2 linked regions of the Homo sapiens genome follow. The protein of the gene in region 1 interacts with the protein of each later gene in a pairwise test. Each region holds a gene or a part of one and is shown in the gene's direction. Other genes may lie near its edges.

Evidence for each region. Proteins that work in one complex are often made in the same cells at the same time.
Region 2: the proteins of CTNND1 (region 1) and FRMD5 interact in binary tests that used the Homo sapiens proteins (3 or more experiments, as listed by UniProt).

The regions. Positions count from the first base shown.
Region 1 is NC_000011.10:57,813,774-57,817,046, forward strand, and holds part of CTNND1 (catenin delta-1), read left to right. Parts: intron 1-537; coding exon 538-600; intron 601-1,620; coding exon 1,621-1,727; intron 1,728-2,141; coding exon 2,142-2,228; intron 2,229-2,523; coding exon 2,524-2,535; 3' UTR 2,536-3,273. UniProt on the Homo sapiens protein: Key regulator of cell-cell adhesion that associates with and regulates the cell adhesion properties of both C-, E- and N-cadherins, being critical for their surface stability.
Region 2 is NC_000015.10:43,887,770-43,891,423, reverse strand, and holds part of FRMD5 (FERM domain-containing protein 5), read left to right. Parts: intron 1-2,551; coding exon 2,552-2,615; intron 2,616-3,157; coding exon 3,158-3,249; intron 3,250-3,654. UniProt on the Homo sapiens protein: May be involved in regulation of cell migration. May regulate cell-matrix interactions via its interaction with ITGB5 and modifying ITGB5 cytoplasmic tail interactions such as with FERMT2 and TLN1.

The DNA.
Region 1 (3,273 bases):
AAGCCAAATTTCAAAGAGATATACAAAAATGAAAAGGATGTTATTAAAGATTATTTATGATAACATGTAAGAAGTTTACCATTAAGTGAAATAGATACTTTAAACTTGTCAGTATGGTAACAATTAATACATAAAACTCACACCAATGAAGGTTCTTTAGATCCTTATAATTTTTAAGACTGTAAAACGGCCTTGAGACCAAATAATTTGAAAACTGCTAGTTTAGATGGAATTGTTTTTTGATTTAAGAGTCTGTAGGGGCCAGGTGTGATGGCTCACACCTGTAATCCCAGTACTTTGGGAGACTGAGGTGGGAGAATCACTTGAGCCCAGGAGTTTCAGACCAGCCTGAGCAACATAGTGAGACCTCATCTCTACAAAAAGCTTAAAAATTATCCAGGCATTGTGATGCACATAGTTGGTGCTAAGTAGAAGTGTGAATGAAGGGAAGGAAGGAGGACCAGAGAGCAATTTTCATGATGTGTACAGATTTTGAAGAATTGTTTTTGACATGGATAACTTTCTGACTTCATACAGATAAGAAACCTGATCGGGAAGAAATTCAGATGAGCAATATGGGATCAAACACAAAATCACTAGGTAGGTGATTAATTCCTGCCTAAGGATGTGGAGTAATATTTCACTGGCTAAGGAGAGCTGTCTAGCTCTATAGTTTTTTTTCTAATACCCTTACCATTTACCATCCTGGGAGAGCATTGGCTGATCATTTCCATTTTGAAGGATGTAAGGAAATTTAATAAAATCTGATCCGTCTACTTTTTCTACATTCCTACATGCTCAAAGGTTTTCAGAAATCTTTCTATGCCTCTCCTATTACTACACATTCAAGTTTGTAGCCCATTATATTCCTACCCCAGTCTCCTTCTCTGGAGTGAATGGATACATCTGTTTCTGCCCAACTATTCTGCTTGCTATTCTATCTATTCACTCTATAGTTTGATTCTGCTCATGTAATACCTCTTACTGGTATGTCCTTCCCTTTTGTCTTTCTAAATTCTCTTTATCTCCAAAGGCTTAACTCAAGTCCTGTTTTCCCTTGTCAGGTCCTTCCTAACGATTGCAGCATATTTCACTCGCTCTTCTTTTAATTCCCATAACCTTTTCAGACAAACCTCTTGTTTAGCTTTATTATGTCATATTCTGGGTATTTTATACATATTGTCTTCCATCTTAGATTCAAGTTCTTTTTTTGAGACAGAGTCTCACTCGTTCACCTGGGCTGGAGTGCAGTGGCGTGATTCTCATACCTCAGCCTCCCGAGTAGCTGGGACTACAAGTGTACACCATCACACCTGGCTTATTCTTATATTTTTAGTAGAGATGGGGTTTCACCATGTTGGCTAGGCTGATCTTGAACTCCTGGCCTTAAGTGATCTGCCCGTCTCAGCTTCCCAAAGTGCTGGGATTACAGGCATGAGCCACCACGGTCAGCCAGATTCAAGTTCTTTAAGTCGGGGACCATCAGACTTTAATGCCTTTGTGGAGCATTTGACAAGCTCAGTTCCCAACAGTGATGCCTAATTACACCTATCTGTTTGATATACGTTTTACACTAGAGGGGAATGTCATATTTCTGTGTACTTTTTTTTTTTTAACCAGATAACAACTATTCCACACCAAATGAGAGAGGAGACCACAATAGAACACTGGATCGATCGGGGGATCTAGGCGACATGGAGCCATTGAAGGGAACAACACCCTTGATGGTAAATTCTCTTTATATACTGCTATCTGTCTAAGGCTAGTTCTATTTTGAAGCCTATGTGTTTTGTGAAACACAAAAAAAAGTACAGAGAAAGATCGCATCCTTTTCTGGTAGGGGTTTTCAGGAAAAAGTAAGAGTTCTGACTCATGTTGGGATTTCTTGGGCCGTTATTCTGCAGTGGTCAAAATGGGGGAAGCATGTCTGTAAAAGTGTTACTGATATGACTAACACTAACTGATCTACTTTCAAACATTACCTTTTTCCTCTCCCTCCCTGTTTATGAATGTTTTGCCCTTCTCTTACTATTATATCTTGTTTTGTTTGAGTTTACAAATTTTCAGAGTTTCCCTAGCTCTGGCACACACTCATGAGGTTCCTGTCTCTACTCATACTAACAAATTGCATGTGTTCACAGCAGGACGAGGGGCAGGAATCTCTGGAGGAAGAGTTGGATGTGTTGGTTTTGGATGATGAGGGGGGCCAAGTGTCTTACCCCTCCATGGTATGTCCTTCAGTCACCCCCAAGATTGTTCTTGAGGAAGGAGGCTCCTGAGTGCCAGCAACTTGTCAATCACGCTAATCTGATCAGGCCAGAGACTAAGTAGTCTCAGCCACATGGGGCTCGAGGGGTTCTGCTTTTGTGATTATTACCTCTTACGAGTCTGGGACATGCAGCTGGTGATCTGATTCTCCGTTATGTGCTGCTTTCCTTTCTCCAGATTTGCTCAACTTTTTTGGGGGGGGTCTCCTTAATCCCAACCCCATTAACATTCTCTCTTTCTCTTTTTTCTCCACAGCAGAAGATTTAGCACCACTATCTCCGTTCCATCTGGGCTTATATGTACTTTTATTTTTTGGTGGTGAAATTGACTGATGATTTTCCTTTTTCTTCGCTGGACTATTGTGCCAACTGCCAGGCTGCCTCCTGCCCTTACAGCCCTAAGTGGCTGCCTTCTTTCCATCAACTCCCAACTTCTTCCTGTGAAGTTTAATTGTCTCAACGCCTCCCCCTCCCCCATTCCCTCCATTTTTCTCCCAAGAAACCTGACTCAATTATTTGCATATTTTGAGAAACTGCTGCAGATTAGTTCTTTTTGCCAGTTTTCCCTGGAACTCCTGGCCTTTTGTGGAGGGGAGGGATGGAGAGAATAGGAATCTTCACTAGAAGCCGTGGGAAGAATTGGAAGTTACATGCTGTATATGCAATGTCCAGCAGTCTGATAAACTGACGATTCTTAATCAAGATTTTTTTCCTGATGGGGAAGGGACTTTTATTTTCTTTTAGAGAGGGGAAAGTGTGAGCTCTTCCCTTATTCCTAATGGCTATTTTTGAAGCAAAGAAGGCCAGCAACATTGGCACATGCCACCTGGCAAAGGACCCTTGAGTAAGTGAAGGTCTCCTAAAACTGGGATTAAGAAACCTTGCTCTCCTCATCTCCAAGGCAGGGACCATCAAGAACCTACAGACTCCATCTCTTCTGCAAGCCTCATGCCAACCCTGGGCTATTGCTGCTGCCCCTTAAACACAGGCTGTCCTTAACCCACCT
Region 2 (3,654 bases), on another chromosome or scaffold:
GGCATTTAAGTGTCCTCAGCTTCCAGGAGTCATATTCCCACTCTTTCTTCCTTCCCTCCCTTCTCCACTCCCATCTAACAGGCAAGAGCCACTGCCTCAGCTGCAGCTACTCTGAGCTGCTTCCTCTCCTGCCCCTCTCTGTTTTATTTGGGGTCTGTTCTGCTGCATGCCTCTGGGCAGACTCTGGTTTGTTGATTGACATTTGGCTTTCCTGGAGACCCTTTAGCTGGCCAGCCCATACAAACATCTGTCAGCGTCATCAAAACATTTTGCATATTCTACTAAGCTCTTGTGATTTCTGTACCTTCCTGGGCCTCAGACTGCCAAGTCTAAGCTGGCCAGCTCCTTCTAGGGGCTTAGATAAGTGGCTTCCCTTGGTCCAGCAGAGCTCAGTGGGGGGAAGTCTGTTTGGTTTGTCTTCTCCAGGAGAGCTCATGAGGAATCTTGAGTACAGTTGCTTCCTAGTCAGCGTTCTGCTGGGGACACTGCAGACCATCTATCCCGCTGTGCCCTCTTCAGCTCCCCCACTGAGTTTGAGCTTGAGGACAGATACCGCCTTTCCAGCCCACCTTGATTTTGTGAAGGAGGGCATTACGATCGTCAGCCAGAGTGCTGGTGAAACTGCTCCTCACACAGGACAGGAAACTCGACTCCCCAGGACAACAGCCGTGCCACAAGGCAGCTGCTGCCCTGGAGTTACCAGAATACACCCCAACATACCTGTTTCCTAGGCATCCTCAAGTCGGCCCACTTCACTGTGCTCTCTGGGTGAAGATGTGAGGATTTGCAATCTCCTGTCCAACAAAATGCTTTTCAGAAAAAGGCAATGAGCAGGATCAGGCCTCAGCCCTCCTAGTGTGGGGTCTCTGCTGCCTGGATACATCTGGGCTATTTGATATTCTTTAGAGGGCCCAGATCCACATTCCAACCAGAGTAGCTGTTGGGTGAGGTCCCTGTTAGAGGGAATGTTTGGCTAGAAACAAGTAGGACACACCTGTCACAGACACCTGCAGTCCCTAAATTATACCCACCCTTCCAGAAACCATGATGGCTCTTGGTTCTCACAGACACTTTTCTTTCCACGGCTTCTCTCATGCACCACTTCTTCTAGAAGTCTCCTCTTCACCATGTGTCAACTCTGTAATAATAGATGTAAACCCAATCTCACTCTCAAAATAAAACTCCTTACTTTCCTAGCTTGCTTGTTGGAACCTAGGTGATCTGTGTGCTTGTCTATATATTAACCAATTGGCATTATTGTACTGTGTGTGTATGAGATTGATGGTTGATTGAGAGGGAGTTTGAGAGGGAATCAAACAGGGAAGGAATACCGTGTGACTTGTGTTAGCTCAGAACTGGTGGTCAGAAGTTGTGAAATCTCATCCTGACCCAGCCATGATTTTCAGGAGCATGGAGAACAAGTGATTTTCCTCTGTCCCCTGAACTTTTTCCAGCAGTAAGTTGGGTACATGATTCTCGCTACCTTTCTACTATTTCCTAGGAGATGAAGGAAATCTCCTTAGAAATTACAAAAAAAAGCAGCAGCCAAGTGGAGGTGAATGTGCATGACAAGACCGCCTTGGGGGTCCCAGTTGGGTTGAAAAATGGGGCCTCCAGTGACATGGAGAGGGCTGAGAGACTCCAGAGGGCAGCTATGTTGGGCAGATAGAAGGGAAGTGAGGAGCAACCAGTGCTGAGGCCTAGTTCCATGGCTCTCAGGGACATTCACCTAAGACCCAGTAGTTTTTCCGTTTTGCAAATGTAACCAAGGCTGAGAGCAGGAGGTGGATGTGGAGGTGAGGTCTAGGCCGTGCCATGTACAGTAACCATGTCACTTCTTCTGATTTGTGTCTGTCCCACGGGTGATGTACCCCAGTATCCTGTTTGCCTCTTTTACTGCAGCCATTCACTGGGCTGGTGGCTTCAAGGATTTTTCTACAATAACCCCTAAGCCCCTTTCCTGGTCAGTACGCTGCATGACTGTTCCATGTAATCTGTTCTCTCTCTTTGGTATGTTGCCCTGCCCCGCTCCCTGAGATTGTTTGATATTTGTCTGCATTAAACTGCATTTTCCATCCAGTGGCACAGTCACCTGAAAGACTCAACTCCCTCAGAACCTGGTTGCATTGTTTCTCATTATTTGCTGTATCTTGAACTTTGGCCTCATCAGCTACCTGTGGCATCTTACGTTTGACAGTCCCATCCAGATAATGCACCTGTGTTATGAACCCAATCCTGAAATGACCCCAGATACTCTACCTAGACTCACTTTCCATGCAAATGTTTCCCTTTTACAGCCACTGTTGATAAGCCCGAAATCCTCCTGTCACCCTATTACTATAGTGTGATTGACCAGAAAACTGTGGATTGAACTGTTTCAACAACATTCTCTAAGGCCACTGCGCTGCTGTCTTGTTTCAGTTCTGATTTTGGCTAAAATTGTGTCTGTGCCTGGAGCCCCTTCCAGTTGGGGTGGGCTGTGCATCTACAAGATTTAGCTGTGAACAAGCAGCCCACAATGAGGTGACAGGCACTATCTTTGTGCTTCTAGGAATGAGGTGACCAAGCTGAAATTTGAAGGAAAGACTTTCTATTTATACGTAAGTCAGAAAGAGGTGAGTGCTGGCTTCCTTCTCTTCAAGGAGGGCTGGGGTGATGGGATGCTTCCTGGTGGCCAGAGCCAAGCTTGAGGGACCCCAGTAGAGCCAAGCTACCCACATACTAAGCCAAGACCAAGGTCAGGACCTGGAGGTACAATATGAAGGAGCGGGAAGGCCCTGGAGCACAGGACTTCCTCAGGGATGCTATTGACACCCAGAGCTTCCACTCAAGAGATCTTTACCTCCAGGAAATGCAAAGGAAGGCTCTTTTTCTTTCGTGTATATGGGAATTCCAGAGGCAAGGGCAACTTTCTCACCAAGAGCTCTCCTGGTTCAATTTGTGCCACTTTTGTGCCAGCTGAGACTTACCCTGATTGGACTTGCCAAGTATGATGTGATGCACTTAACTGAGCTCTGCCTCAGTGGGTCCCACAGGCCCTCCCCTCTAACTAGCCAGCTGCCAGGGCCTCTAACAGCTCTGGGGTCAGGGTCCTCGCCTACTTCACCCTTTGCTTCTCCATCCACACTCAGCCATATCAATGTGGAATTTTTTGCAGGAAAAGAAAATTATTCTTACATATTTTGCTCCAACTCCTGAAGCGTGTAAGCACCTCTGGAAATGTGGAATCGAGAACCAAGCCTTCTACAAGTGAGTGGATACATGTGATGGGGACTGTCTTTCTTAGAGCCAGAGTCAGAGAGAGTCGGTGACAGGAGGCCAAGTGCCCAGGAACTTGGGGCGGGGTAGCTGGAAGTGGGCAAGAGCTTGACAGTTACTGAGAAGCCAGGTTGAGGCCAAAGGCAAGAGCTTTGCCTACCAAAGGGATTTTGTAAAGAATGTGGGGCTTTTGTGTTGTTTTCTTCGGTTAAGAAAGTGGTTATAAAAGCATTAGGTAGTGAAGAAATGGCCCACTGAGGGCATGATGCCAGGTAAAATATGTCTCACTAAGCCCTTTGGTCTTGTTTTAAAAATATACCGTAATGATTTATGCTTTACTAAGATGTATCTGAATGAGGTCAAGGCAAGACAGAGTGTGGTATATTCTACCTGGGG